3 separate regions of the Homo sapiens genome follow, and regions 1 and 2 are each linked to region 3. The links come from fine-mapping of genetic effects on gene expression. A gene starts in region 3. Each other region holds a variant in brackets. All regions are shown on one strand. Distances are from middle to middle.

Region 1 (2,844 bases), 74 kb after region 3:
CTCTGTGTCTTTCAAGGAATTTGCCCATTTCATCTAAGTTTTAGAATATGTGGGCATAAGTTGTTTATAATAGTCCCTTATTATCCTTCTCACAGCTGAAGTATCTGTGGTAATGTCCCCTTTTTAATTTCCCTTTCATTGTTAATTTGAGTCTTTTTTTCTTGGTCAGTTGAGCTAGTTTATCAATTTTATTCATCTTTTCAAAGGTCCAATTTTAAGGCCAGGGGTGGTGGCTCATGCCTGTAATCCCAGCACTTTGGGAGGCCAAGCCGGGCGGATCACCTGAGGTCAGGAGTTTGAGACCAGCCTGGCCAACATGGGGGAACCCCATTTCTACTAAAAATACAAAAATTAGCTGGGTGTGGTGGCACATGCCTGTAACCCCAGTTACTCAGGAGACTGAGGCAGGAGAATCGCTTGAACCTAGGAGGTAGAGGTTGCAGTGAGCCGAGATCACGCCACTGCACTCCAGCCTGGGCGACAGAGCAAGACTCTGTCTCAAAAAAAAAAAAAAAAAAAAAAAAAAAAAAAAAAAATCCAGTTTTAGCTGGGCACAATGGCTCATGCCTGTAATCCTAGCACTTTGGGAGGCTGAGGTGGCAGGGTCACTTCCAGGCCAGGAGTTCAAGACCAGCCTGGGCAACATAAGTGAGACCCTGTTTCTATAACAACAAAAAACACTTAGCCAGGTGGGTGGCACATGCTTGTATTCCCAGCTACTGAGGGGATAGAGGGGCTGAGGTGGGAGAATCACTTGAACCAGGGAGTTTGAGGCTGCAGTGAGCCATGATCACGCCACTGCACTCCAGTCTGGGCAGCAAAGCAAAAAAAAAAAAAAAAAAACAAACAAGACCCTGTCTCAAAAAAAAAAAAAAAGTTGGGCTCAGTGGCTCACGCCTGTAATCCCAACACTTTGGGAGGCCGAGGCAGGTGGATCACGAGGTCAGGAGATCGAGACCATCCTGGCTAACACAGTGAAACTCCGTCTCTACTAAAAATACAAAAAAAAAAAAAAAATGTTGTTCCAGGCGTGGTGGCAGGCGCCTGTAGTCTCAGCTACTAGGGAGGCTGAGGCAGGAGAATGGCGTCAACCCAGAAGGCAGAGCTTGCAGGGAGCCGAGAT[C/T]GCGCCACTGCACTCCAGTCTGGGCAACAGAGGGAGACTCCCTCTCAAAAAAAACAAAAAAACAAAAAAACATCAAAATCAAGTTTTGTACCAAATTGATTAATATTCTCCATTCTTTTTTTTTTTTTGGATACAGGGTCTGTCATTACCCAGGCTGAAAGTGCAGTAGCACCAGTCTCTCCTGGGCTCAAGCCATCCTCCCACCTCAGCCTCCCAGGTAGCTGGGATTACAGGTATGCACCACCATGACTGGCTAATTTTTGTATTCTTTGTAGAGGCAGGGGATTCGCCATGTTGCCCAGGCTGGTCTCAAACTCCTGGGCTCAAGCAATCTGCCTACCTTGGCCTCTCAAAGCGCTAGGATTACAGGCAAGAGCCACTGCACCTGCCCTCTTTGTCCATTTTCTATTTCATTAATTCTACTCTTTATGATTTCCTTCCCATTTACTTTGGGTGTATTTTGCTCTTTTTTTCTAGCTTCTTAATATAGAGGCTTAGAACGCTGCTTTTAGGCACTTCTTATCCACTGTAACCAATTAAAGCTATACATTAATCTAATTTATTAGCACCGTTTTAGATGTGTCTTATAAACTTTTGCTTATTGTGTTTTTATTTTCATTCAGTAATAAATATTTTCTATTTTTCGGTTTTTCAGTGCAATTTCTTTCTTTCTTTCTTTTCTTTCTTTCTTTCTTTCTCTCTCTTTCTTTCTTTCTTTTTTTTTTTTTTTTTGATGGAGTCTCAGTCTGTCATCCAGCCTGGAGTACAGTGACGCCATGTTGGCTCACTGCAACCTCCACCTCCCGGATTCAAGTGATTCTCCTGCCTCAGTCTCCTGAGTAGCTGGGATTACAGGCATGTACCACCACACCGGCTAATTATTGTGTTTTTAGTAGAGTCGGGGTTTCCCTATGTTGATCAGGCTGGCCTCGAACTCCTGACCTCAGGTGATCCACCTATCTCGGCCTCCCAAAGTGCTGGGATTACAGGTGTGAGCCACCGCGCCCAGCCATCAGTGCAATTTCTTTTTTAACTCTTGGGTTACATGGAAGTATACTGTTTAATTTCTCAATATTTAGGGATTATCTAGATATTTTTCTTTTTCCTCTTTAATAAATAAATAAATAAATTAATTAATTAATTATTTTTCCAAGACAGAGTTTTGCTCTGTCGCCCAGGGTGAGTGCAGTGGCATGATCTCGGCTCACTGCAACCTCTGCCTCCTGGGTTCACGTAATTCTCCTACCTCAGCCTCCCGAGTAGCTGGGATTATGGGCATGCACCACCACACCCAGATAATTTTTGTATTCTTAGTAGAGATGGGGTTTCACCATGTTGGCCAGGCTGGTCTCAAACTCTTGACCTTGTGATCCGCCCGGCTTGGCCTCCCAAAGTGCTGGGATTACAGGCATGAGCCACCACACCTGGCCCTCCTCTTTATTTCTGTCATGCTCAGAGAATATATTTTGTACAATTTCATTCCTTATAAGTTTATCGAGATTGTATATGGCTTAGAATATGGTCTACATTTGTGAATGTTCTATGTACCCTTGAACAAGATATGTATTCTGCCAGTGCTGGGTATAGTGTTTTATAACTATATATTAGGTTAAGTTATTTAATAGTATTGTTTAAATCTTTTATATACTTATTGGTTTTCTATCTCCTTGTTCTGTCAATTAATAAGAGGTAAGTGTTGAAATCTACAGCTGAAATTGTAG
Region 2 (2,844 bases), 79 kb after region 3:
TGATCTGCTCACTTCAACCTCCCAAAGTGCTGGGATTGCAGACTTGAGCCACTGTGCCCGGCCAGCATTTCTTAATAGGATGCTTCATTTTTGCTTTTGGAATTTTCTTCCTAACCAGTAACACTGATTTTGCAAGTGCAAGCAATAGAAGTATCTCAGGACTGCTGCATGGTTGAATGATTCGAAGATGTTAAAGTGGGAAAAATCAGGGCTTTTGAATTGGAAAATATAGTATGGAATGTATTTTTCCTCATGTGGTGTGATGATCAATAAATAACCTGCCTTCTGTTTCTTCACAGCCCTTTGTGATATAGGTCCTTTTTATCATCTCTTTATTTTTTGGGTTTGAAACTAAATCTCAGAAAGCTAAAGAAACCTGTGCAAGCTGCTGGAGGAAGGGTTAGTACCCAGCTGTGTCTGACTCAAAGCCATCCCCTTTCTATTTCCCTTCCTATGCCTCCATTCTGACTTTTTTTTTTTTTTTTTTTGTGCTGGAGTTTCGCTCTTGTTGCCCAGGCTGGAGTGCAATGTGCAATGGCGCAATCTCGGGCAGCTCTATGGGTCAATAAACTCTGTTGACAGGGGAACTTGGGGGTCCTGCTGTCTGACACCAGGAATTAAAGTGGAGAGTAAAAATTCTGGAGAATTTAATTTTGAAAATATTCTTTTTCTTTTTCTTTTCTTTTCTTTTTTTTTTTTTTGAGACAGAGTCTCGCTCTGTCGCCCAGGCTGGAGTGCAGTGGCATGATCTCGACTCACTGCAACCTGTACCTCCCAGGTTCAACCTGTACCTAGGGAAGCTAGGCTGGGTTTTCTGTTTAGGGGTCTCATAAGGCTGAAACCAAAGTGTCAGCAGGACTAGGCTTTTATCTGGAGGTTCTAGGGGAGAATCTACTTCCAAGCTCACTCGGGTTGGTAGAACTCAGTTTCTTGTGGTTGTAGGACTGAGGATCCTGTTTCCTCCCTGGTGGTCAGCTGGGGGTATCTTTACTCCTAGAGGCTGCCTTCATTCTTTCTCACATTTTTCATGTCCCCACCCATCCCAGCAATAGTGAGTTGAGTACCCCTCATGCTCTGAATCTCTGGTTTCCTCCTCCTCCACCTCCTTTTTCTTCTTCTTCTTTTTTTTTTTTTTTTTTGTTGAGATGGAGTCTCACTCTGTTACCCAGGCTGGAGTGCAGTGGCACTATATTAGCTCACTGCAATCTCTGCCTCCTGGGTTCAGGCGATTCTCCTGCCTCAACTCAGCCTCCTGAGTAGCTGAAACTACAGGCATGTGCCACTACGCCTGGCTAATTTTTGTATTTTTGGTAGAGACGGGGTTTTGCCATGTTGGGCAGGCTGGTCTCGAACTCCTGGCCTCAAGTGATCCACCTACCTTGGCCTCCCAAAGTGCTGGGATTGTAGGTGTAAGCCACCTCACCCACCCACTGACTTGAGTCTCTGATTCCAGCTACACAAAGTTCTCTGCTTTTAAGGGCTCATGTGATCTGATTGACCCCAGATTGACCCCACCTGAGCAAAGCAGGACATGGCTCTATTTTAAGGTTCAAAACCTCAATTATATCCACAAAGACCCTTTTTGCCGTGTAACAGATAAATTCACAGGTTTCAGGGATAAGTGCATGGGCATTGTTGGGGGCCTGCCACACCCCCCCCCC[CA/A]GCTAGTTTGTAATCTCCATGAGGAGTTGGGGTGCCAGCACAGCCCTGGCACTGTGGGTGCCTAATAAACTCTGTTGCCAGGGGAACGTGAGGGTCCTGCTGTCTGACACCAGGAATTAAAGTGGAGAGTAAAAATTCTGGAGAATTTCATTTTGAAAATTTTCTTTTTCTTTTCTTTTTTTTTTTTTTGAGACAGAGTCTCGCTCTGTCGCCCAGGCTGGAGTGCAGTGGCATGATCTCGACTCACTGCAACCTGTACCTCCCAGGTTCAAGCGATTCTCCTGCCTCAGCCTCCCAAGTAGCTGAGATTACAGGTGACCACCACCACACCTGGCTAATTTTTGTATTTTTAGTAGAGGTGGGGTTTTACCATGTTGGCCAAGCTGGTCTCAAACTCCTGACCTCAGGTGATCTGCCCACATTGGACTCCCAAAGTGCTGGGATTATAAGCGTGAACCACTGTGCCCGGCCCTGAAAATATTCTTTACTCAGAAATTGATAGAGGAAAGTATGTTACCCCCTTGTGGGAGGTAAATGCCTTCAAGTCTTCGGCTCTTGCAGGTGGTAGTCCTCAGAGCGTGGTTCTCTTGGGTGTGAGGAAGGCTTTGGGTGCTGTGTGCTGGTGTTGGGGAAGAGGGGCAAGATGGCACATCAGCCTGGGCAGAATGAGTGTGCTCAGGTCCAGGAAGCTGGGTTGACAGATGCAGGCTTTTCTCAGGTGGGCTTTCAGCCAGTGCTTTGGGAAATCTTAGAGACAGAGGCTATGTGGCTGAAAATAAATCCACACACATCTGGTCAGGTCTACTTTGTGCGGGGGTCTACTACATTCAGGACCTCACCAAACCTCAGAGAAACCCCTCTAGGTGGGCTATAGCGGCTTCATTTTACAGACGAGGAAACTCAGGCTCAGAAGTTGAATGATATGTTCAAAGTTACACACTGAGGCACAGAGGCAGGACCGGAGCTTGTTCTTCGGTCTCGTAGTTCAATGCTCTTTCTGTTTTTGTAGTTGCCTCCTGGGTTGGAGGTAGGAAGACGTGGTTTGTCCCTAATGTATTAGGTGACAGTGGAAGCTCCTCTACTTGTTATTCAAGTCCTAGCCTACCTCTTTCCTCAGTCTATATTAATCTCTTGTTTCTTCTGAATTCCTACGACATTCATTTATTCATTCATTCTGAACTC
Region 3 (2,500 bases):
ACCGAATGACTCAGGTGGACGATTAGAATAAACCGTGCGCCGTTCTCTTTCACTAGGTCTATAAAGCCCAGAAATTATGTTTGGTCCAGAAAACCAGGAGTTATGAGCACCTTCCTTTTCCACCTTTTAATATTCTACATATCTAGCAACGGTTCTTAATCCATGGTCTTCATTCATTTATTGCCTAAACAAGATCTTGGGTGTCTCTTGGTGATCACTTCTTCCAAGCTGACCTAATATGACAGCAAAGTGAAAAGCCTCTTCGTGGGAAGGGTCGCGACCGCGCGGTAAGTCATCCAAAAGTGGAAGCATCTTGCTTTTACTGACTTATGTATACGAGGGTGGCGATGGTGGCGGCCTGACAGGGACGAGGCCGGAGGGGAAGGGGCGCGCGGGCTGCTGGGCAGCCGCGGTGGGGGTGACGGGGGCAGCCACGCTCCCCAGCGCGAGCCGCCGGACCCGGGACCCGACGAGCCCCTCCCGGCATTGCACCCTGACCCCTCTCCTCCTTCCAGGCCTTTCATCTGCCCTCCCGCTGGGCAGCCCGCGGTCCCCGGACCTCAAGCCGCCCGCCTCCTTCCGCAACCCCGTCGCGCCGCCCCGCGAAGCCCTCGGCCGGGCGGGGACCCCGACCCGACCCCTCCGGCCGCGCCCCTCCCCCTCGCAGAACGCACCTGCGGCCCCGCCCCCGGCCGAACGCTGAGGCGGCGGCTGGCTGGCAAGGCCGGGCGGCTCGGCCCTCGAGGCACAGTCACCTTCCCTTCCCCCGCCATTCCGCCCACCCCCCTCACTCAGCCACAGAGCAGCCGCCGCGCTCCTCAGCCGCCCCGAAATCTAAAGGGGTCCGTCTCCGGCACCACTACCAAATGGCCGAGCCTCCCTGGCCGGCTGCGCAGCCCGCCCATTGGTCCCTTCCCCCCCCCGCCGCCACTGCCATTGGCTGTTGCCCGGAGACCCTCGGCGGCGATTGGCTCGGGCCGCTGCCGCTCGTCCATGGGGCCGCAGATCCCGCCTCCACGGCGATCAGGTTAGTGTGCGCCGCGGGTGCTGGGGGCTCGAGAACCGAGCGGAGCTGGTTGAGCCTTCAAAGTCCTAAAACGCGCGGCCGTGGGTTCGGGGTTTATTGATTGAATTCCGCCGGCGCGGGAGCCTCTGCAGAGAGAGAGCGCGAGAGATGGAGATGGGCAGACGGATTCATTTAGAGCTGCGGAACAGGACGCCCTCTGATGTGAGCATTTGCCAAAAATATCTCTGTCGGTCCATTCTCCTACTTTGTGTGTGTGTGTGTGTGTGCGCGCTGGGGGGAGGCACTTTTTTTGGGGGGGGGCGCCCGGGAGGTGCGGGTTTGGGGGTCGGACTGCAAGCGAATTGGCAAGGCTGGGGGGTTGCAATGCCATCCGAGCATGTTCCGGCTGCCGCCGCCGCTGCCCTTGGTGTGTGACTACCTGTGCGTGTGCTCCCGCGTGTGCGAGTGTGGGTGCGAGAGTGTGCGTGCGAGTGTGCACCCATCGGGGGCCGGCGGGCGCACGCGTTTGGGTCGGAGAGAATGAGGCGAAATCACCCTCGGAGATCGCTGCTCCCGTGACTCCGTCTGGGGGGAAGATTAACGAGGGAGGAGGAGGAGAGGGGCTGCCTCCTGGATTTAACAACAAAAAAAGGGGGTTTTACATTTTATAAATGTATCCCCCCTTCCGCCCCCCTCCCGCGCCTCCCCCCTCCCTTTCTCTCGCTCGCTCGCTCGCACACACAATAAGTTTGGGGCTTCGCGAGTCCGGTTTAGTTTCTGATAAATGTGGGCCGAGGCCCCCGGGGAGAGCGCGTGGGGAGGGGGCTGCAGCGGAGTTGGGAATGGCTGGAGTTTAAAGTGCGTCTTCATTTCTTTGCAGTGATGAGGCGAGAGACGGGGGAGCCATATTTGTAACTTTGTAGTGTTCGTGAACGCGCCCTTTCTCTCCCTCCCTCCCTTTCTCTGCCTCCCTTCCTCTCCTCCTCTTTCTCCCTCACTCTTTCCACCCCACCTTCGGGCCAGATGCTGATGTTTCTTCCTTTCCTTCCGAAGGGAGGATAAATTAGAAGGAGGGGGAGGGATTTTCGAACGTGCTAAGGCACAGATAATCCCCGCGTCTCCCTGCCTCCAGCGATCGCTGGTGCAAGTTGCCCAAAGGCTACGTCCCGGTGCCCCCTCGCCCCAGCTCCTTCCGGCTTCCCCAAGATGCCAGCCTTTGGGCCCTGGTGCCCCCCAGCTCGAACCCCCGGCCCGTCTTTCTCAGTGCTGGGCTTGTCGGCAGCCATTCGGCGCCTGCTTAATAAATGGGCACGGGAAACTTTGTCAGGACGCGAGCTGCCCGGAGCTGGCGCCCGTGGTGGGTACTGGCTGGGTCCACGTTTATGCGGGCATGGCAAACACGCAGCTCTAGGATGGGAGTTTGCCCGCTAGCCGCCGTTATTGATTGGGCAGCGGCGGGAGCACGGCCGGAGGAAACTTACACGGGTGGGAATC

What was found. PIP is the estimated chance that this variant, and not a neighbour inherited with it, causes the effect.
Region 1: its variant is the best candidate, but not a certain one, in a credible set for the expression of ANP32A in whole blood (TOPMed, PIP 0.84).
Region 2: its variant is the best candidate, but not a certain one, in a credible set for the expression of ANP32A in whole blood (INTERVAL, PIP 0.75).

The regions. Positions count from the first base shown.
Region 1 is chr15:68,744,932-68,747,775 of GRCh38, reverse strand. No RefSeq gene overlaps it. Among named protein-coding and RNA genes, the nearest start is that of MIR4312, 56 kb to the left of the region's middle. The variant C/T (reference allele first, on the strand shown) is at 1,124.
Region 2 is chr15:68,739,929-68,742,772 of GRCh38, reverse strand. No RefSeq gene overlaps it. Among named protein-coding and RNA genes, the nearest start is that of MIR4312, 61 kb to the left of the region's middle. The variant CA/A (reference allele first, on the strand shown) is at 1,662.
Region 3 is chr15:68,819,426-68,821,925 of GRCh38, reverse strand. ANP32A (acidic nuclear phosphoprotein 32 family member A) reads left to right here and starts at 1,031. Exons shown (of 7, transcript NM_006305.4): 1 at 1,031-1,228. The coding sequence starts at 1,175. RefSeq lists silencers at 490-549, 620-779, 830-1,079 and enhancers at 1,751-2,332, 2,333-2,500.